Regions from separate parts of the Homo sapiens genome. Here all the other regions are linked to region 3. Evidence: fine-mapped expression QTL. A gene starts in region 3. Each other region holds a variant in brackets. All regions are shown on one strand. Distances are from middle to middle.

What was found. PIP is the estimated chance that this variant, and not a neighbour inherited with it, causes the effect.
Region 1: its variant is fine-mapped to the expression of SHROOM3 in nasal epithelium (TOPMed, PIP above 0.99). The same link has a PIP of 0.9 or more in pancreas.
Region 2: its variant is fine-mapped to the expression of SHROOM3 in iPS cells (iPSCORE, PIP 0.90).

The regions. Positions count from the first base shown.
Region 1 is chr4:76,688,867-76,697,077 of GRCh38, reverse strand. All of the region lies in intron 2 of SHROOM3 (shroom family member 3), which reads right to left. Among named protein-coding and RNA genes, the nearest start is that of SHROOM3-AS1, 110 kb to the left of the region's middle. RefSeq lists a silencer at 7,402-7,581 and an enhancer at 7,495-8,017. The variant A/G (reference allele first, on the strand shown) is at 4,588.
Region 2 is chr4:76,700,063-76,708,358 of GRCh38, reverse strand. The region is part of intron 2 of SHROOM3 (shroom family member 3); the gene reads right to left. Among named protein-coding and RNA genes, the nearest start is that of SHROOM3-AS1, 98 kb to the left of the region's middle. The variant G/A (reference allele first, on the strand shown) is at 3,633.
Region 3 is chr4:76,430,959-76,439,254 of GRCh38, reverse strand. SHROOM3 (shroom family member 3) reads right to left here and starts at 4,026. Exons shown (of 11, transcript NM_020859.4): 1 at 3,035-4,026. The coding sequence starts at 3,202.

The DNA of each region.
Region 1 (8,211 bases), 260 kb before region 3:
GGGTGCGGTGGCATGTGCCTGTGGTCCTAGTTACTCAGGAAGCTGAGATGGGAGGATTGTTTGAGCCCAGGAGTTCGAGGTTGCAGTGAGATATGATTGCACCACTGCACCCCACTTGGGCAACAGAACAAGACCCTGTCTCTTATAAAAACAACAACAAAAACCTCTCGGCTAGTTTTGTTTTCATCTTGAACCTTGAATCCCTATGCTATCCCCCAGTTCCCAGAGCCTGCCTGGTCTTCCAAGCTGGATGTGAAAACATGCCTTTGATGCAAATTCTTTCCAGACTGGAGCCCACCCTTGTTAATGTTGACTAACTTAAGAACAGATGGTATTGGGAACAGAATCTGAGCAGAAAGCAGGTAGAGAAGTGAGTCATCATTTTTATTTGACCAAGCAGAGCAGCCCCTTCCCCCTCAATGGGCATTCACACATGGAAGGGTGACCTCAGGGAGGAGTTTGGCAGGTCAGGGACGCCAGGCCAGGCCAGCCTATGACAGGACATGTCCTGTGAGCAGTCCATCACCCACCATGTCCCCTCCCACTGCAACCCTGATATGTCAAGCCTGGGAAAGGTATAGAACCCACGACAAAGAGAAGGTACTGGACTGTGACCCCATTTCACAAATCCAGCTGCGGATCAATGGCCTCCGCCCCAGCCAGACCTGGCTCAGTAGGGGAGGCAGCCTCCTCTCACTATCACATTCCAGCTGCCAGTAGTGAGGAGGTAACCATGGGAACCGACACAAAGGGCTTAATGTTAGAGGGAAAGAGGCTGGGGGCGATGGTGAAGAGGCTGAGAGGGACTTCAAGTGACAGTCCTGCAATTCTCCTAACTTCAACCATGTGCGTCTATTGTGAGTCAGACTAAAAGACTGAAGTGGAGCTTTTGCACAGCAAAGCAGCCTGGCACAAGGCCTCGAGAGTGTCAGAGACAAGCAGACAGCTAAGATCCTTGTAGGTTCTTCTTCCAGATTTATTTTTTCCCCATCAGAGAGCAGAGTCCTAATAATTTCATTTCCCAGTCATTTTGCCCCAAAATAATACGGCTCATTTGGATGGACATAATTGGTACACAGTGGCACTCTTTCAAATACAGGGCTGCAAGCAACACTTTGCTTAGGGGCTTCTTTCTGCACCATCTGGTTTCAGTCCAGTGTCTCCAAAGGTCTCTGCATGCTGAGGGGCTTCTTCGATGGGTCTGGAAATAGACCAACGTGGCACCACTTGAGTGGCTGAGGAAATGGTCCTGAGATTCTGGCTGCCTAGTTAACTCCACACTGCAATGGAGAGGCTTTGATGTCAGGACCAATAATCCAGAGTATCTTCCACGACACTCAGGACTTTGGGGGAGAAACTAAGTGAAAAGGCTCATATAGGAACAGATACTAGGATCCATATTTATTTAATTACATTTTCCCCTGGGCATCTATACATTATTTTAATGAATTGGTCAAGGTGACTTCGTCTTCATTAAATCAGCAGCGTTTTCAACGTACCATTTGGAACTTATTTTTATTTAAGTTTTAGCTCAAGGTTCTCCAGAATCTGGGAGTTGAGAAAATGCCAATGGAAATAGGAAATATGAAATATCCAGGATCAATGGTAGACTTTTCTTCTTACTGTAACAGTGCTCTGGGGCACATTTCTTACCTTGCTATTTTTTTGGAGACCAAGAAAATATTGCATCTATGTCCATCCCTACATAGACCTCACAAAGCATAGGTCAAATTCTAATAGGCAGCCATGATTCTCCAATTTTTTGTTCACAAATAAGTCGACTGACTTCCTAATTGGAGTCATTGGGGGTAAGGAGCAACGGACAATGTCAGAGAGGACCACCTCACAGGTGGACTTGTGAGGGGCTGGGAAAAGAAAAGACATGTTCATTAGAGCCTTTCCTACAAGCATCCCACAAACCCCCAAAGGTGGTAGACCCATTAACCATTTAAGAACATATTCAAGGAGTCAACCATCCCCCACCACCAGTATTAATCTGCATGCAGCCATAAGCAGGGCACTAGTTAGTTCCACTTATTGGTATAAAACAATCATATCTAAAAGGGAAAGATAGTTGACATCTATTACAGACCTCATCCATTAATTGACAGGATGGTATTGGGTACTAACCCTGGCACCTCCATGCCCTCAGCAAGTTATTTAACCTATGATTTTGGTTTCCTCACCTTTAAAAGGGGATAGTAACAGTGCCTGCCTCATAGGAGTGTGAGGAAGATAAAATCAGCCAGCACAAAACGTATTAGACAGTGCTTGACTCCTAGTAAGTACTCAATAAATGTTAGGAATTAACACCTATCAGGTGCCAGCCTAGTTATATTTACATGTATTCTGTCACTTAATCCTTATAACAGCCTTAACCTAATAAATATTAATACCTCTCTTAAGGTATCATTATCACCATCTTGCAGATGAGGAAACAGCTGCTTAAAGGACTCTCCAAATTACTAGTGTAGCAGAGCTCAGATTCAAACGTAGGTCATTCTACTTGCACAGTCTCTGACCTTTCCACTGTACTCAATTGCCTTTATATAAGACCATTTTGTTTTTGCTATTTTTAGTAAGGAATAACAAGTGAAGCCTTAATGAGAAATGCCAATGTTTAAGAAAATAACATCAATTAAAAGAACTAGGATTTTAAACCTCCACTGTAAGCAGGAGCTTTTAAAACAAACAACAAAACACAAAAAAAAACAAACAAAAAGACTAGCCTGAGACAGACCTCTCTGCTCTGAGAAAAATTCCAAAAGAAATGTGTACACATTCACACTTGTGGCTGGAGTGTCTATGAACCCTTGAGGGTACAATGTCTTATTATTCATCATTGAATTCCCAGAGGCTAATGCGTTCTCAGTAAATGTTTGACAAATGTTTACTGAATGAATTAAACCAACCCAACAACAAAATGCCTCACTTGGAGTTGGCAAAATATATAACATCTTTCCCAAATGCTTTGTTGAACTTAAATTAAATCACTGAAGCTTAATAGATTAAATAAACTATTATAAATTTACCACTCTGTCCAAAGCATTTTACTGAAAAGCATGACGTTAATTTTGATAGAGAGATCGAGTTTTGTTTTTTTTTTCTACCTACATCTTTGGGAAGAGAATATAGTATGTTAACCTTTCATTTGGATTCCCAGAAGATGTTGTGAGCCTCATCTGGGAGCTCAGCTTCGACAATCATCATTAAATCAGTCCTCAGATCAGTCCTCAGGAAAAAAAAAAAAAAAAAAAGGAGTTTGCCTAGTGCGTAGTTCCTCTCTTTGGAGTTTACTTCTGCTGGCAAAACCAAACCCCAGTAGTATTTTGATCACGTACACAAGAACTTCACATTTTAAATCCCCACAACCTTAAAAAATGACTCATCAAGGGCCAGGTGCAGTGGCTCACACCTGTAATCCCAGCACTTTGGGAGGCTGGGGCAGGCAGATCACGAGGTCAAGAGATTGAGACCATCCTGGCCAACATGGTGAAACCCAGTCTCTACTAAAAATACAAAAATAATTAGCTGGGTATAGTGGCATGTGCCTGTAGTCCCAGCTACTTGGGAGGCTGAGGCAGGAGAATCGCTTGAACCCGGGAGGTGGAGGCTGCAGTGAGCCAAGATTGTGCCACTGCACTCCAGCCTGGGCAACACAGCAAGACTCTGTCTTGTTGCTTTAAAAAAAAAAAAAAAAAAAAAAACAAACTTATCAAAATGAAGGTATGCATAGTAATAATGATAAGGATACCAGTTAATATAAGATCCTTGATAATCTTAAATGATATGGCTTTCACAAAAGTGTAAATACTTTTTCATCAACTCCAAAATCACATATTATATTTATCACAGTGCCTGGAAATAGTAGTTGACATTTACTGAGTTCTTACTAAGCTAAGTACCTTCAGTCATTAACTCAATCTTTGCAACAACCCTATGAAGATGTTCTATTATTGTCCAATGTCTTGCAGCTCAGAGGTATTTATTTAATATCTTGTCCAGGGTAATATATGCCTAGAGGCAGATGTGGGATGTATACTCTTGTGTAACTCTAGAACCTAAGTTTTTCTTCTAATTCAGGTAATGCTTTGCATACAATAAAATGCACAGGTCTTAGGTGTTCAGTTCGATGGGTGTGGATAATTGTGTATACCTATGAAACCATCACGAAAAACAAAACATAAAACATTTCCATCATTCCAGAAAATCCCTTCTTATCTCTTTCTAGTCAGTCCCTACCCACTGGCAACCACTGACTTCTGTCATAGATTAGTTTTGCCTATTCTAGCACTTCATGAATAGAATTGCTTATTATTATTTTGTATCTGGCTGCTTTCAGTTAACGTGCTCTTGAGACTCATCCAGGTTTTTGTATCAAGAGTTCATTCCCATTGATCGCTGAGTCGTATTCATTGTATGGATGTGCCACTGTTTCTTTACCCATTTTCCTGTTGATGGATGTAGGGTTGTTTCCAGGTATTGGTCATTATAAATAAGGTTGCTATGAACATTCTGTACAAGTCATTGGTGGACATTTGTTTTCACCTATCTTGGGTAAATACCTAGGCGTGGAAATGTTGGGTC[A/G]TAGGTTGGTGTATGTTTAACTTTACAACAAACTTAATTTCTTAACCCCTGTACTCTACACCTTCAGAATGGCACTAGCTTATTAACATGTTTTATTTTGCCTCTTATAAGACGAGTTCCTGAGGGCAGGGAACCCATCGCCAGTTCCTGGGATGCCTCCCACACAGTAAATGATTGCTGAATAAATGAATGACCATTGTTCATGCCCCTATTCCTTCTTTGGGTGTTACAACAGCATAAGAAAACTAGTTTCTGACATGCATGAAGAAATCCCACAAGCTGAAGGCTGTGAAATGGAGGCATTGCTCATTCAGGCAAGGTGAAGACTGCCCAGCCACCAGGCTCTACCTCCCAATCTTCTTTCTGACATGACCTTCCCTAGAAAGTGAACCCCTCTCAGTGATCCTGCAGGAGGAAACAGCTCCTGTTCAAGTGATACTACAGAAGGGGAGGAAGGTGTCAAGGCAATTGAGGTCACACAGTGGTTAGAATTACAGGATACTTCTGTCAAACAGAAAGTCAGAAGAAGCGGCAACCCATGAAATCCTGACCTTCTGGAAGTCACCAGCAAAACCTCAGCACTGCTGGACTCCAGGGAAACATCCTCGAACAGAACTTACAAGAATAATTGATTTTGGTCAAAGGTCTGTATGGGTTCTGCATGAAAAGGGAAAGCAAGAATAAACATTGAAGAGACAGTAGAATGTTGATGTTTTAAAAATGTAACCAGATTTAACACATAAGACAGGATTCTAAAAATAACACTAGGTTAAAAGTGGAGAAAACTCAGGCACACTCTTCACACACACCCTGCCCACCTTTCAGGCAAAACTTTTAATTCCCATGAATCAGTTCATTTACTTTAAAATCACAGAATTTATACTGTAATTCACCTATACCTTCCCAGAAAGCAGTTAAATCATTGTTGATTTTCTATCCATAATAGAAAAGGATTGGTAACTCCTAAGAATAATTTAACGTATCTGTTACCAAAAGAAGAACTTTGTTTCACATAAATCAAAACAGGGCTCCACCTCCTACTGGGCTCAGGTACTTTTGGCAACCTTAATTTGCTTTGGTCCCAGGTCACAGAGGACCTGGTCCCAGGTCAAAATTGAGGAATTCTAAACAAATTTTAGAATTCCTCAATTTTGAGGTTCAGAGTAGTGACCTAGTCTTCCTTTATCCAGACAGTACTGCACTGAAGCCATCCTAGGCAGATGGATGTTTATCCTATTCTTAAAATCTCCAGGGAAGTGAATTCTCTACAACATCCCTTGGTAACCTTCTCCAGGGTTTTATCAAATGTATGGTGAGGAAGTTCTGATGCAGAAGCCAATAAACATATTAACCATATGAGCCAAGCCACAAGCACTGGAAAGGGGTATGTGTTTGGGCACCTCGCCTTAATGGTAGAGAGATGTATTTACAAAATAGGCTGTACAAACAGAAACCATTTGCTGGGAGCAGATGTGGGAAGTTGATTCAAGAGAAATTGCCACAATAAATTCTGTTCCAACTCATGGGCAATGTGAATAAGTTATTGTTGGTTATAACATTTTTTTAAGTAAGTTTATTTCCTTGTCAATTCCTAGCTTTAGTTCCTAAACCAGGATTGTTAGCAATGGAGAAAAAAAAAAGTCCATAGCTGAAAAGTTTTCAAATGACTAGGATTCTGTGAAAAACTAGGTCTTAGCAAACAAAACATAGATGTTGTTATAAGAGTTTATTTCTTTCTCTGTATATTACACCTTTTCTGCAACGATTGTGTAATATTTTTATAATCAGAAAAAAAAAGGTAACCATCAAAATAAATTTAAAATGTAAACCAACTTCTGGTGAAATTTTTTGGGGGAAAGATCTAGCCATATATCCGACCAGGGTGCTTTTAACTGGAAACGGACATTTAACTAGGCTTTAAAACAACTAATTAAAAACAGAAAATGCACAGAACTCTCTCTGGCAGCCTCTGTGCTAGGACTTCCTGTTGCACCCCCCGATATCACAGCAATCTCTCCATGGAGATGACCCGCATGCAGGGCACCCATTTGCTCCCAGTGCAGAAGCTCCCGTGCACACAGTGCGCCACAACAACACTACTATTTAAAGGGAGAGGGGAAAAAGGTAATGCCAAAATACATCCTAGAGGAAGAGAAATACATCCCACCCCCAGAGAGTGCTCCAGGTGTTGAAATTTTGTAACCACTCCCCTCCCCCACCAGCAAAAGTTTTATTCCTCTGGCAATTCGGAGTAAAGCGAGCGTCAGGTAGAATTTCATTTTCATGATTTAAGTGTTGCTGCAGCACAAGGAACACACTATTTAAGTAACTGTCTTAAGATCTGGAGCAAGTGGGGGTTGGGGGTAGGCGTGCCCCTCAACGCACTTCAGGAGCCTTTCCTACAGAAACAAATCCAGTAAAATTAAGAAAGGCAAGGAGTTCTCAACTCAGCAGGGGCCCTGGTGGGAAGCAATTTATCAAAATTAAAATATTTCACAGATCATTTCTTCCGAAAAGTTTTCATGCTGTCAATAATCAACAATTATTTTCCTCTTGGAGTGGCAGCTACTGCCTCTCTGATAAAAAGCCAAGGCCTAGGAGTGTCAGGAGACCCTCGGAGCACGCCACCTGCCCCCATCAGCCGGGGTGCTGGCCGTGAAAGCCCCTGGGAGCCATCCTCCAGACAGGGCTTTCCAGAGTCGCCGCAGAGCCCGAAATAGACGCGCTCCAGAAAGCAGCCGGCCGGCCCCCGCCTCCCTCTCCGTGCCCAGCCGCCCTCCTCACTCACCATCGCCGCTCGCCTCGCGGCCGCCGCCCCCGGGCTGCTCGGGGCTCCAGGCCGACGCCAAGTTCAAACTTCGCCGCCGCTCCGAGGAGGCGGCGCGCGGCATCGCCGGCGGGGCCCAACGCGCTCAACAATGGGCGGCCCAGCAGCGCCCTGCGCCACCGCGCCACCGCGCCGCGGCTACAGCTGCACGGTGGGCCGGGGCAGCGCGGCTGGAGGACGCTGATCCCGCGCGGCGCGCCGAGGGTGCGGGGCGCTCGCCCACCTCTCGTCCCGCCCGGGCCCGCTCAGTCCACCCCGCGCCCGCCGCACCCGAGGGGCCGCGCTGGCTCGGCGCTGGCTCGGCGCTCGCTCGCCACCAGGTAATCCCACAGGAAGCCTCCCGGATTGGCCCGGGAGCTCAGGACCGGATTTGCATTTCAATGGCAAAGAAGGCTCCCTAAGGTTTGAAAACGGATTCTGGGGTGGAAGCGTCGCGCTCCACTCGCCCCTCCGCGGTCCTTGGGTCCTTACGGTATTAAGGGGACCGGACCGAAGCACACACCCTCAGTCCCTCTGCCCATTCAATCAGAAAGGTGCCTTAATTAACCTCCCCCCGTTGTAAAATGCAGAGGAATCCAAAAGCAAAATATCAACTTTAAGAAGCCCGCGCTCGCTTTTCAGAGGCTATACAGTTAGTAATTGATCAAATGAAGCATGAATGAAGCAAGGTAAAAAGTTCACAGCTAAAAAAAAAAAAAAAAAGCTCGCATTACAAGGAAAATAACCATCCTTTTTCTCAGCATGCCCTCTTCTCAGTGTAAGTCACAGCAGAGATGCAGGTGGTGGTGAATGCCGCT
Region 2 (8,296 bases), 270 kb before region 3:
GAGCTCTTTTCTCTTTCCTTTCCACTTCTCCTTCCTGGGAGATGCCTAGAGACAGAGGTCTAGGAGTGGTGACTGTCACAGTGAAGGGCTGGCAGGAAGAGCAGGCAGACCAGAAAGAGATGGAAGCATGAGGAACATAAAATCATTCCATCGATTTAAGCATTTTCAATGTATGATTCCTTTCTACCCTAGAAAAGCAGAGACCAGCACCCCAGCACTGCCCCCAAAACCATGTTGTCCTACTACGTGTCACCTCTACAGGACCAGCTGAAATTAGCAACTGGGTGTGAGAATCCTGAAACCCATTTTGATTCTTGTTAATTGCAACCTCCAGGCTAACCTTTGCCCCTCCTAATCTTCACCCTCCTGCCCTGGATGGGTTGGCTCTGGATACCAGAAAGAGCCTGGGCACCTGGGTGAGCTGTCTGGATGCACCACACAAACTAGAAATCAGGCTGGAGAGAGTGCTAGAATCACCAGCACACCAAGCACACCTTTCCTCCCTTCAACTCTTTCTGGAATAATCTGGGCAACAAACACACATTTTAAAAATTCATTATATTAAAAAAAAAGAAAAAAAACCCATAGTGAACCGAGGTGGAAAATAGTCCTGGCATGAGTGTTGGGAAGCCTGTCATCCCAGAAACCAGGGCCCTGGAATTGTTTCTTTGCCCTTCCTTCCTTCTGCCTTACCTGTACATTGAATACCTTACCTGTACATTGAACTCATGCTGTCTCTAGAATGCACATTTTCTTACCCACCTCAAGTTGCTACTTAGCCTCAAAACAGACTGCCATAGACAAAGTCTGCAATGTGCTTTGATCTTATCGGGGAATGGTGCCCCACTGGTGCGCCAATGGTTATACACGACTCAGGCAAATTTGCCAAGTCTTTCTTAAAAAAAAAAGTGTGCTTTCCCATGTGCCAGATATTATTCCCACAACTTTTTTATGAAGGAGAGAATGAATGAGGGTTTAAGTCCCATTTTACAGACTGACAACCTGAGATACAGAGAAGTTATGTAAATTTGCTCAAACCACACATGGAATCATATTCCCTTCGGACTGTCAACCACTCACTCTCCTTCCTTTCAGTTTGGCAGGTTTCAAAAATGTTCAATTTATGCCACAGATTTTGTAGGCGTTACAATTACTAACCCAGATTTGGTAGGGAATGGTGATGGTAGAGCCATTAACTAAACATATTACCAAATAAGCCCATTTTTACTTAAAAGATACTAAAAGGTACAATGTCTCACTTAAAGATAACCAACGATACATTGTAGAAGCCTGGAAATCAATGAATCCAGTTCAAGTGAAACATACTGGGATAAACTATACACTCTCCAGGCCTATTGGGCTACTTCTAGATCCCTAAAGGATCCTCTCCGGGCTTATCCACACTCATCCTTCAGGTTTCAATTTCGACATCATTTCCTCTGCTGGCTACCCAGAGGAACTGTGGAAGTCGGGGTGAGGTGGCCCCTTGTGTGCTAGCAGTGCAGCACACTGGCTATAGATGTACACCTCAAAGTGCAATTCACACTGGCTGCTAGTTGCCTGCTTGCTGGTCCCTCTCTTCCACAGGTCAACAAAGATAAACCAGCTCAGCTTAGTGCCTGGAACAGAGAGTTGCTCAATAAATATTTGTTGAATGAATAAAGTACAGATGACCCTTGAACAACAGAAGCTTGAACTACGTGGGTCCTCTTATACGCAGATTTTTTTCAAACAACTGTATCCACCTCTCCTGTCTTCCCTTCCACCTCTTCGTCCATCTCTGCCACCCAAGACAGCAAGACCAACCCATCCTCTTACTCCTCCTCAGCCTAGTCAACATGAAGACAATGAGAATGAAGACCTTTGTGATGATCCACTTTTGATTAATGAATAGTAAACGTATTTTCTCTTCCTTATGATTTTCTTAGCATAATAACATTCTTTTCGGCCAGGCACAGTGGCTCACGCCTGTAATCCCAGCACTTTCGGAGGCCGAGGTGGGTGGATCATGAGGTCAAGCGATCGAGACCAGCCTGGTCAACATGGTGAAACCCCATCTCTACTAAAAATACAAAAATTAGCTGGGCGTGGTGGTACATGCCTGTAATCCCAGCCACTCGGGAGGCTAAGGTAGGAGAATCACTTGAACCCGGGAGGTAGAGGTTGCAGTGAGCTGAGCTCTGCACTCCAGCCTGGCAACAGACGGAGACTCCGTCTCAAAAACAAACAAAAAACAAAACAAAACAAAACAAAAACCATTCTTTTCTCTAGCATACTTTGTTGAAAGAATACAGTACGTAATGCATATGACATACAAAATATGTTAATCAACTGTAAGGCTTCCAGTCAACAGTAGGCTATTGGTAGTTAGGTTTTAGGGTAGTCAAGAGTTGTAAATGGATTTTTGACTCTAGGGGGTTAGCATCCCCAATCCCCCTGTGTTGTTCAAGGGTCGACTGTACTGCTAAATGTTCAACAGATCTGCAGCCTTTCTTCCCTCCTATATCCTTTTAACTCACAAGTTAACTTGTTGGCAAAACTAACAAGACATTTCTTGGAGCTGTTTTATGTTTATGTTTCTTGCTGTTCTCCAGTATCTATATCTCAATATTACCACTATGAGTGAAGAGCTAGGAATCAAAGCTGACCTGAGAAAGTTTAGCAGAGGCTAAAAAAATATACTGTAGTATGATCTTTCTTCTTCCAGATAGTTAAACAAGAAAGCCAGGCCAGCCACCCACATATTTCTTCTACTTCCCATGATGAGGACATTCATATTTGCTCTGCCTGCCACCCAATATTCATAACTCCAGAATATATACTGACTGCTTTCTTATTTGCTTTTTGTTTTGTTTCGTTTTTGAGACAGGGTCTTGCTCTGTCACCCAGGCTGGAGTGCAGTGGCACAATCTTGGCTCACTGCAGCCTCGACCTCCCAGGCTCAAGTGATCCTCCCACCTCAGCCTCCCAAGTATCTGGGATCACAGGCATGCACCACCATGTCAGGCTGATTTTTAATGTTTTGTTGTTGTTGTTGTTGTTGTTGTTGTTTGTAGAGACGGAGTCTCACTACATTGCCTGAGCTGGTCTTAAACTCCTGGGCTCAAGTGATCCACCCACCTTGGCCTCCCAAAGTGTTGGGATTACAGGCATGAGTTACCATGCCCAACCTATTTGGTATTTTAATAGTACCCATTAACTGCTTTCTGAACTGAGTTTCAGCCAATACAAAAGAAAGGGTTCCAGATCTTTCAGTTCCTTAGGGCTCTCTTGAACACTGTACAAATTAGGGAAGGCTGGGGAAACTGGAGTAAAAGACACGGAACTGAGCCATTAGGCATGGTCTCTCCAGGTCCCTTTGCTTCCTGGTTTCTATTGAGTTTGCATTTTTCTATTTTATCCTTAAAGGGGAGGGTGAGATGGAGGAATCGTGTCTCCTTGGCATGGTCTGTTACAACCTTAGGGAAGTGCTTGGTTTTGTCTGTTAGAATCAGCCATTTCCTCCTTTTTTGTTATGTTTCATCCAGGAGGGAATGCTTCCTCACTGGCCTCCCCCTTCCACTTCTGTCCCCTCCAATCCAGTGTCTACCCAGCAGCCTTTCAAAAAATGTAAATGGATGATGTCATTCCCT[G/A]ATGAAATCCTGTAGCTTCCCTATGCATTTTGGATAAAATCCAGGTTCCCCTACTTGGCCTGCAAGGTCTCTGGTGACGTGGCTCCTGCCCCTCCTTCAACCTTTCCCCTTACTGCATTCTGACCTCACTGGCCTTCCTTAGGTTCCCCAAACTTGCCAAGCTCTTTGCTTTTTGCACATGCTGTTCTCTAAGCCTGGAATATTCTTCCCAATTCATTTCTTGGCTGACCACTCCTTAGTTTCTGCTCCCAGCTGGAACATCACCTCCTCGGAGACTGCCTTATCTAATGCAAATACTCTTTCCTGGCACCTGATCTTTCCCTTTACTGCACTTATAACCACATGAAATTGTTCACTTGTGCATTGTCTGCTTCGTTGTTAAGACATAAGCTCAGCCAGGTCAGGGTCCACCTCTGGCTTTTCTTCAGCCTTGTTTTTTGAAACTTCTACACACCCAAGGCCTAGCACAGTGAGTGTCTCCTGGTAGGCACACAATGCATATTTGCTGAATGAATCATAGGAACCTGTAAAGGAAATAATTGTAATGCATCCAAAACAAAGTTCTATGTCCTTAAATCCATAAGGGCATTAAACTGTTCATAATATCTATTTTGGGAAATGTGGGATCTTCTTTTCTTCTAGTTACTTTCTAGATCAGGCTCTGAGTTGATTTCTTCTTGAAAATAGAATCTAGCCCTAACTTTTGATCCATCTCATTAGCGGCAGGCTTTCTTGGGACAGACAAGAAAAGTTGGGAGTTGGGAGACTGTGGCAGAGCCCCTTCGACAAACAGCTGGTATGGCTCAGTGCAATTTTGTTGCCTTATGTTTGGAGGCAATCAGAATGCTTTTTGTGATTAAGTAGACAGGATGCATTTATACAGGGCTAAGTTTGTCCTCAGAATCCTTTGGAGAAATTCCTTTTGATTTATGTTGGGTGTGTACACTCATTCATGTGGCAATTTGTCTTATTTAAAGCCACGTTCTTGGTTTTCAAGTTTTCCTTCTACTCTGTGTCCTTCATCCATGAAGTTAGCCTTACTATTGCATCTCTATCCTGTCATCCCCCTTCTCCTGGGTTTGCAGGTCTCTAATGCCATAGTTGTAGGTTTCTCAGCACTTTTTCTCTTGAGTCTCCAGGAGGCTGAAAAGGCCTTAGATTAGAAGCTTTTTCAGTGTCTGAAGAAGATTTTAAGAAGTGATGCCCTCAGGCACAGATTTCTGTTCTTAGCCAAACATAGGTGCTCTTCATTTTCTGATAACTGACCATTGATCAGCCGTTTCACAGACATCTCAATGAATTACCCTTTCTTTAAAAGGCCCCCTTGTTCCTGTTACTGACCTTTTGTAACTTACACATTTAAGTCTTAACCTTCTGGGTCCTGTCCTCTCATTACTCATCTTTTTTCCTTTTTAAGTCATTATTTACCATCTAGGAAGCTCCCTCTGCATGCCCTCAGGCCTGTATCCTATCTAGTGTTTTAGTCATAGGCATGCCATTCATTTGTACTTAAAGCCTCCTCCTGTCTTTCTGCTTACCTACCCTGGTCTACAGCTTGTTTTATTACAGGAGGGCCACACATAACCCTTCAGCTCTGCAGAGATGCACTTTGTATGTCTCAAACCTCTGTCCATTTGCACCTCCTGCTCTGGCTGCTGCTTTTTTTCACTTGATTTCCCCCTGAAACTTGCCAAACAAATCCAGGTGTACAATATACCCCAGTAACATTCAGCATATTTCTGACTCTTTCTGAAACCGTAAGCTTAATTATCTCCAGATCTTAGCCAATGACCTCTATGTCAACCTTGCAGAAAGATGAGGAAAGGGTGGATAGGAGAAAAAGCCAAATGACCTGCCAAATCTTTTAACCTGCCTAATAAATATTAATCTGCTTCAGTTTACTGCTGACATCAGTCCCTCTACCCACTGAGCCCTTTGACACAGCTAGTAGCCCAGGACAAGTGCATAAGAAAACCAAGGGCTCTCACAAGGGCTTTATAGTGAACAGATGATATCTTCATGGAAGCGGTGTGCCCCTAGCTACAAGCACTCAGAGCCTAGATCTTAAGACAACTCCAACAAGCAGCAGGCTGTGTAATGTATATGGACGATGTGGATTCCGGAGCCAGCTGCCTGGGGTCCTGTTCTGGCTCTGTCACCTAGGAAGGTGTTTGAGCAGGTCACTTAACCTCTTATGCCTGTTTTTTCCCCTATAAAATAAGAATACTAATAGCACCTTCATCAAAGGGTAGATGTGAGGCTTGAATGAATTAATATGTATAAAGCAATCAGAACAGTGCCTGGCAATAATTATTAAATTTTTACCCGTAGAACTGAAACTTACATTTACTGGGCACATGGTATGTACCAGATTATTTGTGCTTTAAAAACAGTAATTCAGTTAATCTTCTTATCATTTGAGGCAATAATCATCCTTATTGTAAAGAAGAAAAGAAAAATTAAATTAAAAAGTAGAAAGAGCTATGGCTAAAGGCCTCACCCTCTCCACTACCTACCCCATTAGATTCCTTTTAGGATTACTGGGCTTTGTATACTTTGGTAGGTATCAACCACATATCAAACCATGTATGCCTTTAATTTTTCCACATCACTCTTTTGTTATTCATATGAGATAAAACATATGCATAAAAACAAAACACCAGCAAGTATTCCAAAATGTTACTACTGGGTGACAGGATTATGGGTACTATTTTTCTTCTCTCTTTTCTATGTCTTGCAAATTGTTTACAATTAATGTTTATTATTTTAATTATCAGATAATAGTAAAATTAGCCTTATTTTTTCTTAATAGAATGAGTCTAAGGGTCTAAATTTTCTACATTTTTAAAGGAACATCTTCTCTAGGAAATGGAAGTGCCTATCCTGAGAGCATATGTGGGCAGCAGAAAGACTCCACACTAGTTGGTGAAGGGGATTACTTTGAGAGCTCCAATAACTGCTGAAAATAGCCAGTGGAGGAAGAAGCAGGGTTTCTGTGAAACTAGTATCAGTAGAGAGAGACAAATACCTCCTGAAAAAATTCAGTCTAGGCCTTTCTTTCCCTATCCTCTATCATTAGCCTACAGTAACAGACTAGTGTTCCCAGAGAACAATACAAATCTCTACAGCGAACCATTATTCATTACTTTAATACCAGATTATAGCTTATAAAGCACTTCCCAAACATTATTTCATTTGGCCCTCAATAATCCTAAAAGGCAAGTAAAGCAAGTATTATTTATCCCCATTTAACAGATGCAGAGACAGCCTCATAGAGGGACAGTTATTCGCTCAAGGTCAGGACTTCTAAGCCACACGACTGGCACAGCAGGGTCTCATACTCTAATTTTTAAGCTCTCTTGTTCCATACTGCCTTTGGATTCTGTGATCCTAAAAGTCCATTGATACAGTAGCAAACATTTAATACCAAAAGCCTCTTTAAAGGGGAAGCTTCAGAAGAAGAAAGTAGACTGACTGAAATTCAGATGAGACCCCTCTCTCAAGTCCAACTGTCCCTAGATCTAGAGAAATGATGAAGTCCCTACCCCTGACACCCAGACAGCATTCCTGCCCCTACAAGAACTTTCTAGCGCCGGTCACACTGCTGAAATGATGCAGGATATATTAAGATAGATATTTCAAGGCCAGGTGCAGTGGCTCACGCCTCTAATCCCAGCACTTTGGGAGGCCAAAGCAGGCAGATCACTTGAGGTCAGGAGTTTGAGACCAACCTGGTCAACATGGTGAAACACTATCTCTATTAAAAATACAAAAACTAGCTGGTTGTGGTGGCTCACACCTGTAATCCCAGCTACTCAGGAGGCTGAGGCATGAGAACCACTTGAACCCAGGAGGTGGAGGAAGGTTGCAATGAGCTGAGATCATGCCACTGCACTCCAGCCTGGGTGACAGAGTGAGACTCTGTCTCAAAAATAAATAAATAAATAAAAGAAAGAAAGAAAGAAAAAAAAAAGATATTTCATGCTGAAACCCAGAGCCTAGTCACATCTATACCTAGCCCAATCATCCATTCATTCAATCAACTATTGCTAAGGGCTAACCACAGGCCACACATTGGATTAGGCACTGGACTCGTGGCAAAACAGACACGATCCTTCCCTTTGTGGAATTATAAATTAATGGGAAGAAAGCCAAAATTAACTGAATAAATATATACATACACGCCATAAGTCCTGGGAAAAGAGACCATGAGAGCAGCCCACACTCAGCATGCCTCCCTCTCCTTGTCATTCACTTTTACACAGTCGGTGTAGACACTTGCTTCCCCCAGTCGCATGCCCCAGGGAGGGCAGGTATCCAAGCATCAGTCCTCAAAGTTGCCATTACCTTATGGAGTGCTCTGAGCCAGGCTGGGGGCCAAACTGTTTCTGCACAGCTTCTTACCATCCTTACAGCCAACCTTGAAGGCAGGTGACTTTCTGCTATTAGTCCCTACTTTATTCATGAGGAAACAGACTCAAAGAAGTGCAGGAAGTTTGTCCAAATGCTGGTGAAAAAAGAATTTGACTCCAGATCTGGCTGATGACAAAGTCTATGCTCTTAACTATGATGTCATAGTCTTAATCTTATTTGAGATTCTCCTTTCTTCCTTGGCCCCATATGGTTCTCTTCCTTGGATGATGCCCAATAAGTATTTGGTTAAT
Region 3 (8,296 bases):
GTCAGAGGTCAGCTGCAGGGTGAGAAGGACTCAACCTGCTGTTGCAGACTTTGAAGATGGAGGAAGGGGACCATGAGCCAGGGAATGTGGGCAGCCTCTAGAAGCTAGACAGGGCAAGAAAACACATCTTCCCCTAGAGCCTCCAGCAAGGAACACAGCCCTGCTGACACACTGACTTTAGCTCAGTGAGATCTGTGTGAGGTGTGTCACCTACAGAACTGTAAGTTGTGTTGTTTTTAAGCCATAAGTTTGTAGTAATTTGTTACAGCAGCAATAGGAAACTAATACATGCCCCACATGGAGGTCTGCCTGGCATCCTCATTGGTTCTGTTTGGTCTTTTGCTTATTAATTCAGTAAAAGTTATTGAGTGCCTACTCTGTGCCAGGCACTGTGCTAGATCCTGAAAATGCAAAATGAGTAAGACACAGCCATGCCCTTTCATATACTCAACAAACATTTGTGTACCTAGGCTCTGATTTAGATGTGATAGAGATGAAAAAAAAAAAATAGTCCCTGCCCTAAAAAGGCTCACAGACTTCTGAGAAGGCAATCAACGAAATAAAATTTTATGATTCAATGTAATACATGCATAATATGGAAGTGTAGAAGGGAGACCACGGAACTCAACTTGGGTGACATCAGGAAAACCTCAGAGAGAAGAAGAAATGGAGCTTTAAAGAGTTTGCCAGACAGACAACATGGGGGAAGATGTTCAAGAGCTTCGGAACAGTACGACTCTTGGAATGCAACAAGTGCAAATGAGGAACATTTAAACAGAGTTTAAAATTTTTTACTTCATTTTAGTTACCTTTAATTGAAATAGAAATAGTCACATGTGACTGTGGGCCACCATATTGGACAGAGCACATTGGACCAGATTGGATCCTTGAAAGAAAGGAGATTGCCTTCTCTTTTCCCTCTTCCCTGCTTCTTACTGACTGGAAAGCAGATGTGGTGGCAAGTCACTTGGACCATGAAGATGAGATATCACTCCAGGATGGAAGTAAGAAAATAGAAGGAACTTGGGTCCCTGACATCATAGAGCCATCTTTTGGTTTGGCTTATGCTCAGACTGTTATGTCAGAGAAATAAATTCCTATATTATTGTTATTTTGGATCTTTTTACAGCAGCCAGACCTGTCTCCTACTACACATGTCTGCTAGAATAATGAAAAGCAATAATCATAATCTTTGCTCCTTCTGTGTACTAGACACTAACCTAAATGCATGGTTGCATTTAAACACAACCCATTAAAGTAGATAGTAGGATAGCCCCATTCTGCAGGTAAAATGGAGGCTTAGAGAAGCTGGCTCATTAGTGGGAGGATTAGACCTTTCTGTCAGCAAACTGTCAGATACTGTAGTGTATAGATACAGAATATTTTATCATTAAGGGACAGGCAAATTGTGTACAACTAGACTTTTTAAATGCCGAGACAATATTTATGTTCATTGCAGAATTATCTGTTATTCAGCAACCATGCCCTCTTTCTTCCTGCAAAAAGAACCTCAAATCATTCAAACAGTGGGCAATGATTCCTTGACTTCAGGAAGAGTAGGTCCTTATTGTAGAAACCTGTGAAAGAAATCCTAATCAGTCTGTATTAATCACTGGCATTTCTTACCAGTGATTGGCCTAAAGACAGGCACAGGGTACAGTTCTGGTTAATGAGATGAAAGCAAAGGTCTAATGAGAAACAAAAAGCCAAAAACCTGTCTGGAATGAAGATGCAATCAATGCTGGAGTTGTGGGATCCATCATGCAACCATGAAGACAAAGCCAACATCATAAGAATGGCAGAGTGGAGAGATAAGTGGGGTCCTTGATCACATTATTGAGCTGCTGCTCCCCTTGCCTGGAAAATCTACCTCCAAACTTCTTGTAATATGAGAAAAACAAACCCCAATTTACTGAGAGCCACTATAAACTCGGTTTTGAATTTTTTTCACAGGGGGAAGCCTTCCTAACTGACACACACATATGCACATCCTTTTGTTTTACTTAAGAAAGTTAAGGAAAAGTCATACAACTTATAATGGTGTCCCGTGCACTCGTGGCTTATCACTGTGAAACCCAGTTCTCCCTGGCTCATCCACAGTAAGAATTACTTCAGTAATTTGAAAAATAACCTTTTGGAATTATTTCTGGGGATATGAAAAGTAACCTGAACCAATAACAGAGCTCAAATGCAATCCATATTACCTTCTTCCCACCCTCAAATTAAAAATTTTTTCTCCCTTAATTACAAATGTTTCTTGATGAATGCACATGTGTGAAAAGCCATTATAATCTATTGTATCAGACTATTAAATACTCTAAAAATTTAAAAGCAATATTATAACAAGTAATGTTAATCTGTAGTTTAAGAGAAAAATAGAAATATTAACCCCAGTACATAAATATTTCATTGGTATGACTACCCACACCAAAAGATAAATGAAGAATTGAGGTATGCTGCAGGATGACTAAGGTTTAAAAAGGGATTCAAATATACAGATAAATAGGAGAGGCAGAAATGTTTTGATCTTGAGTTATGCTGAAAGCTGATTTAATTCTCCTTTCTGAGTGTGGGGAAAAAAAGCAACACATGGTATTTATGCAATCTATTATCCAGAATTATAAGCAAACTTAAAATATTTTTAGATGCTATTTTCAGTTGAAGAGAGAAAAAGCAGATATTTTTGAATGCACAAATATATACCATGCCACCATCTTAACCATGTTATTAATCTTTAATCTGATTTATAACTGAAAAGCTCATGTGGTAACTGATTGTATGCGATTTCATTCACAAAAAGAGAAGATTATCCATCAAACAGGCATATTTTTCTTCGGATTTCATAGAATAAATGAGCTAGACACATTTTTCTTTCAAATCCCAGGCTATCCAAAATATTTCTAGATAATCAGAAAGGCATGAAACAGCAAATTAAGTTATATTAAGGCAGTTCTCATTATTTTGCATTTTTGACAAATCTGACAAGTTGAAAAAAACAATTTGAATAAAGGCAATATTGGAAAAAGAAACATACCTTAGAGATGATTAATGGTTCTCCGTGCTCCAGGCCACCCTTTAGAGTAAAACCCCAGGGAGCTCCTCCCTCCAGGAATGCCTCCAGATAAATGTACCTTCCCTTGGTGGCCGTGTTAGAGTTTAATGTGGCACTAGGCTTGTGGAAGTCTTCAGTGGTCCTCATCATGCCAAACACATGATCCCTCAAGTTAAATTTAAAATGCCTGAAGCAAACTCAGGCAAGCAGTGCTTCTACAGCACAAGTTGTCCCATCCTTCAGGACACACAATGGCCAAAAGAGAGGTTTGGAGAAGCAAATTCTTCCATACGTAAAATGTTCTTCCAAGCTGAACTCCAAGATGCTGAACCAGAAGGAATTTTCACTTCAACATTTCTGAATGTAAATCCTCCTCCAGGAATTCTGGGTTCTCACTGAAGCCCCCAAGTGGTATACATCTCTACTCCGTTCGTCAAAACTTCCTTCAGTGGCGCTCTGAAGATTGCTTTTCTGAGCTTTTATTTCACACATACACACACTAAAACCATTTCTGCCTATTTTACAGAGAAAATTAAAAGCATCTTACAATATAGTAAGAAAATCACAAATACTCAAAGGAATACCTCATTTTTGATTGATTATCAACCCTTTCTTCCTCTCGGAGTGAAATTTACCATTACAATAGCCTCCTCCCTCCCCAGAAGTAGCTTAAAAAGAAAGAAAGCACTTACTATGCTTCGGCTCACTTCAGAATTTTCTAACTTGTCCCGAAGAGACAGAGAAGCTGTGCTAAAACTTTTTACTTCTTTTTTTCAACAATCAGTTCATAGTTTGTTTCTTAGGAGAGAAAAAAACTTTTGCAGGATGTAGAGAAAATGAAAAAGCACGGTAAATTAATCCTCAATGGAAAAAATATGAAGGAGGCAGCTCAGTTCTTTTCTTTGGTATTTTCAGTGATGATCAGCCACTGCTGCGGCCGCCACAGCCACTTGCCTCCTCTTGAGAGAAAGAGTAAGGAAGTTAGAGGAACATGGATTAAGGCAAAGTGAGGCATTGCAACCTTTCTGCACAGTAAGCACTGCCATGCAGAATTCAGCTCACCACAAAGACCTGACAATTCAAACAGTCTTACAGTTAATAACACGTAGGAAGTTAAAAATACTATACAGATGGCTAATTGCCAAGGGATAGAAAATAGTTCCTAGAATAGCCCCGCCTCGTACCAATTAAAGGAGAATTTCAGGGAGTGAGACATAGGCATTTGTGTTTTTAAAAACCCTCCAGGCAATTCTGCTATGCAGCCAAGTTTGAGAAGCAATGCCTAAGTGATTTGGGTAAACGTTTAAGTACATGTCAAGGTGGTGGCACAAGGGCTTTTTTTTTTTCGTTAGAAGAAAATACTACCAGTGTAATATATGAAATGGGACTTTCCAATCAAAGTTCTGCTTGTTTGACTCAATAAAAACAGGAGGTGGGTTTTTTTTTCTAGGTTTTCATTGTTATCTACTCCAAGATTGTTATCCACTCTTTAAATGAAAAGAAATCTACAATGCCTTGTGGGTAAGTACTAGGTACTCGGGAAAGAATGTTGTTCTGATTTCATGTTACCAGTGTCATTTTGTAATAATGTTATATACAAATTTAACATTCATGCTTTGTATTAAAAATTTGAACAGTAGAAGATAACCATATCTAACCCAGAAGCCTCAGCTATTTAGTTATTGGAACAGATTAGAATTACTTCCAGGTAATATATGTACTAAAACTTTTTTCTGTTTAAAAGTATGGGATAATGAGAATTAAGTTGAAAACTGAAGTTAAAAACTACTGTGGGGCTTGATAACAATTATTTTGGTGTTTGTACTTATAATTAATGAAAGGCTGATATGGAAAGGCAGGTATATGATATCAAACTACACGATATTTAATTTACAACACTGGACAGGTATTGTTTGATTTTCAATGGTAACTTCACTTGAAGGGCTCAAAGACAAAAAAAAAAAAAAAAAAGTAAAACCTTATGTAATGGTAGTATGTGAATGGAAACATAAGGAAACCTAAGGTGTACCAAATGAAAGTATGTGGTAAAAATTGGCTGATTCTTAAGGGTAATTTACGCAATTTCTATTGTGGTTTTCTTTTACAGCTTAATTTGTAAGTTAGAATAAATGGAGAAACATTAGCTTTTCTTTCATTTCAAAGAACATATGTATTTTAAATAAAAGTCCTAGGTAAATGAACAGCTTTCTTTCTGAAAAAATTAATTTATGAGGCTCTTATTATGTTACTCCTAATACATTTTGTAAAAACTGGGATTTTACAGAATCCACATTTAATATTAAAAGTAACATAGCTATACAAAATTTCAGTTAGGAGGCATAAGCTCAAGAGATCTATTGTACAGCATGATGACCATAGTTATAACAATGTATTGTATATTTGGAAATTGCTAAGATTAGATTTTAAGTGCTCTCACCACAAAAAAAATTAGTATGTGAGGTAATAGGTTAATTCCTTGATTTAGCCATTTTACAATGCATACTTATATCAAAACATCATGTGGTACACCATAAGTATATATAATTTTTAGTTGTCAATTTAAAAAATAATAAACAAAAAAAGTAATGAAGCTAAAGGCAAAGGAAATAAGGAAAAGATAATATGAACCCAGTGCTTGCAGACTGATGAAATCTCCATTTTAGATTATCACCAAAAATATTGAAGAAACAAACATAGAACCAAAATTGATATGTAATCTGAAAAAAAAATGTAAAACTTCATTTTGTGGACCTTCACTATAGCAGTTGATAGACCAGGTTTGGAAGAACTTTTTTCCTCCATCTTCTGTTGATCAGATTCAAAGAATGTTAAAGCTGCAAGAGACAATCCTCCCACACCCTTGATTTTAGAGGTAAGGACACAGAGGCCACCAGAAGGTTAAATGATCTGACCAGAGTAATCCTGCAAGCAACACAGGCAGGCATGAAATTTAAATCTTCAGACGTTTAGGAATGAAATCCTAGCTTAAGTCAGGTGTTCTGCATAGTTTACGGTGAAAAGACAACTTTCTTTTGGCATAGCACTGCTAATTCGTAAGAAGAACTTCTGTTAGGATATGTGATTTGGATGCAAACTCTTAATTACAGAATGCAATCAGACTCCTCCCCAAGAAGAGAAAGGCAACTCTATTGTCTCAAGGTGCTGACAGTGGAAAGAAAGGTTGGGATTCTAACTGAGAACAGCATAGGACTCAGGCTTTCTAATAGAGGACTTCTTTTATGCCCCATTCATCATCTTTCTAGGGAACCACTTCTTCCTCGATCCTGTGGTGCTGGTGGGCTGCCCCTGTCCCCGGCTCCAGGGTGGACGTAATGACCCAGGAATCAACCAACCCCTGGCTCAAATGATTGATATGTGGATGGGCATGAGACTTAAGTGTGACCAATGTTATAACTAGAAATTTTACTAGTGCTGTCAAAAAATGGCATTTTCTCCTATGGTTTGCTAGGTTGGTAGATAAAATTTTTGAGTTGCTGGAAGTCTTTTTTTATTTTTTATTTTTTTTTTAATTGAGACAGAGTCTAGCTTTGTCGCCCAGGCTGGAATGCAGGGTGTGATGGCGGCCTACTGTAGCCTCAATCTCCCAGGCTCAAGCAGTGCTCCCACCTCAGCCTCGCAAGTAGCTGAGACTACAGGTGCATGTCACCATGCCTGGCCAGTTTTAAAAATTGTTTTGTACAGACAGGGTCTCACTCTGTTGCCCAGGCTGATCTCAAACTCCTGGGCTCAAGTGATCCTTCCGCCTCAGCCTCCCAATGTGCTGAGATTACAAGTGTGAGCTGCCACGCCCCAGCTGGAAGTCATCTTTGATATCACACGCCTGAGAAGGAAACCAGCTCTGAGAAAAGCAGTCTATGATAAGGGGGAGACAGTTCTGGTGATACCATTGAGCCTTGTGCCCAATTGTACCTTACTGAAGCTGGCAATTCTCAAGCTTTTTGGTTTCAGGAACCCTTACATGCTTAAAAATTATTGAAGACTCCAGATAAATTTTATGTGTTTTGTATTGATCAATATTTACTATATTAGAAAATAGAAAAGAACATTTTAAAATACTTATGTATTAATTCATTTAAAAATAATAAATCTTTATATGTTAAAGTAACATATTAATATTTTTATGAAAAATAATTACATTGTCTCAAACAAAAAATATTACCAAGAAGAGTGGCACTGTTTCACATATTTGCAACTCTCTTTAATGGCCAGGTTAGTAGAAGATGGTTGGATTCTACCATCTGCTTCTGTATTCAATTTGTTCAATATCACATGGCATATAGCCACTGGAAGATTCCCCTATACATTTTTGAGAGAGCAAGTGGAAAAGGTACACAATGTCTTAGTATTATTACAAAAGCAGTTTTGACCCTGAAGACCCTTAACTTTCCAAGTTCCTATGGGATCATAAAACTGGTAATTGTAGGAGTGGGGTGGCTTTAGGCCACCATAAGCAGATGCAGCCAGGCCTAAAGCCACCCCACTCCTACAATTACCAGTTTTATGACCCCATAGGTACCTGTTTATTTTTTCCTTAAACCAGCGGGGGTTGAGTTTCTGCTTCTTGCAACTGAAAGAGTTCAGAGTAATACACAAGGAAACCCCTTCGTGGTTTTTCCTGGTTTGGGAGAAAGTTTAGAGAAGCTTAGCACAGTACCAAAAATGAAGCTTCACATTGTGTTTTTCTGTCTATTACTTCTCTCCTTCCTTCTGCCTCTAACTTAGAATTACTCCTGCTTTCTTGATCAGATTCTTCCCTTCATGACAAATAGATCCAATGTAGCTTACAACTTTATTTTCTGTCTCTATACGAAAAATTCCCACTGTGAGTTATTGAGCTCATATTGCTGTCATTGTGAATATGGCCCCAGAACAGAAAAATATATCAGTCATATTGACTCTACCACTTGTTTAGCATCCCTACACCAAACAGTCTGTTAAATGTCATCTTCCTAATCACTGTTTTGACTTTTTAGCAATCACACATCATTGTATTTGTTAACAGCACTGAAGGAAAAATTAAGTTGATCTTTTGAAAATTCCCATTTCTTGATTTTAATTTTTCTTAGTATGCCCTAATGTTTTTCTCTTTATTTTTTGCTAAAACTTTTAATGTGATTGTCAACTTATTGGATTTTTAAAAATGCTTCTAGATGGAATATTTAAGAGATTGAAAAGTCAGTAGGTTATCTCTGAAAATGAAATCAGAGCGACATCTACTGGCTA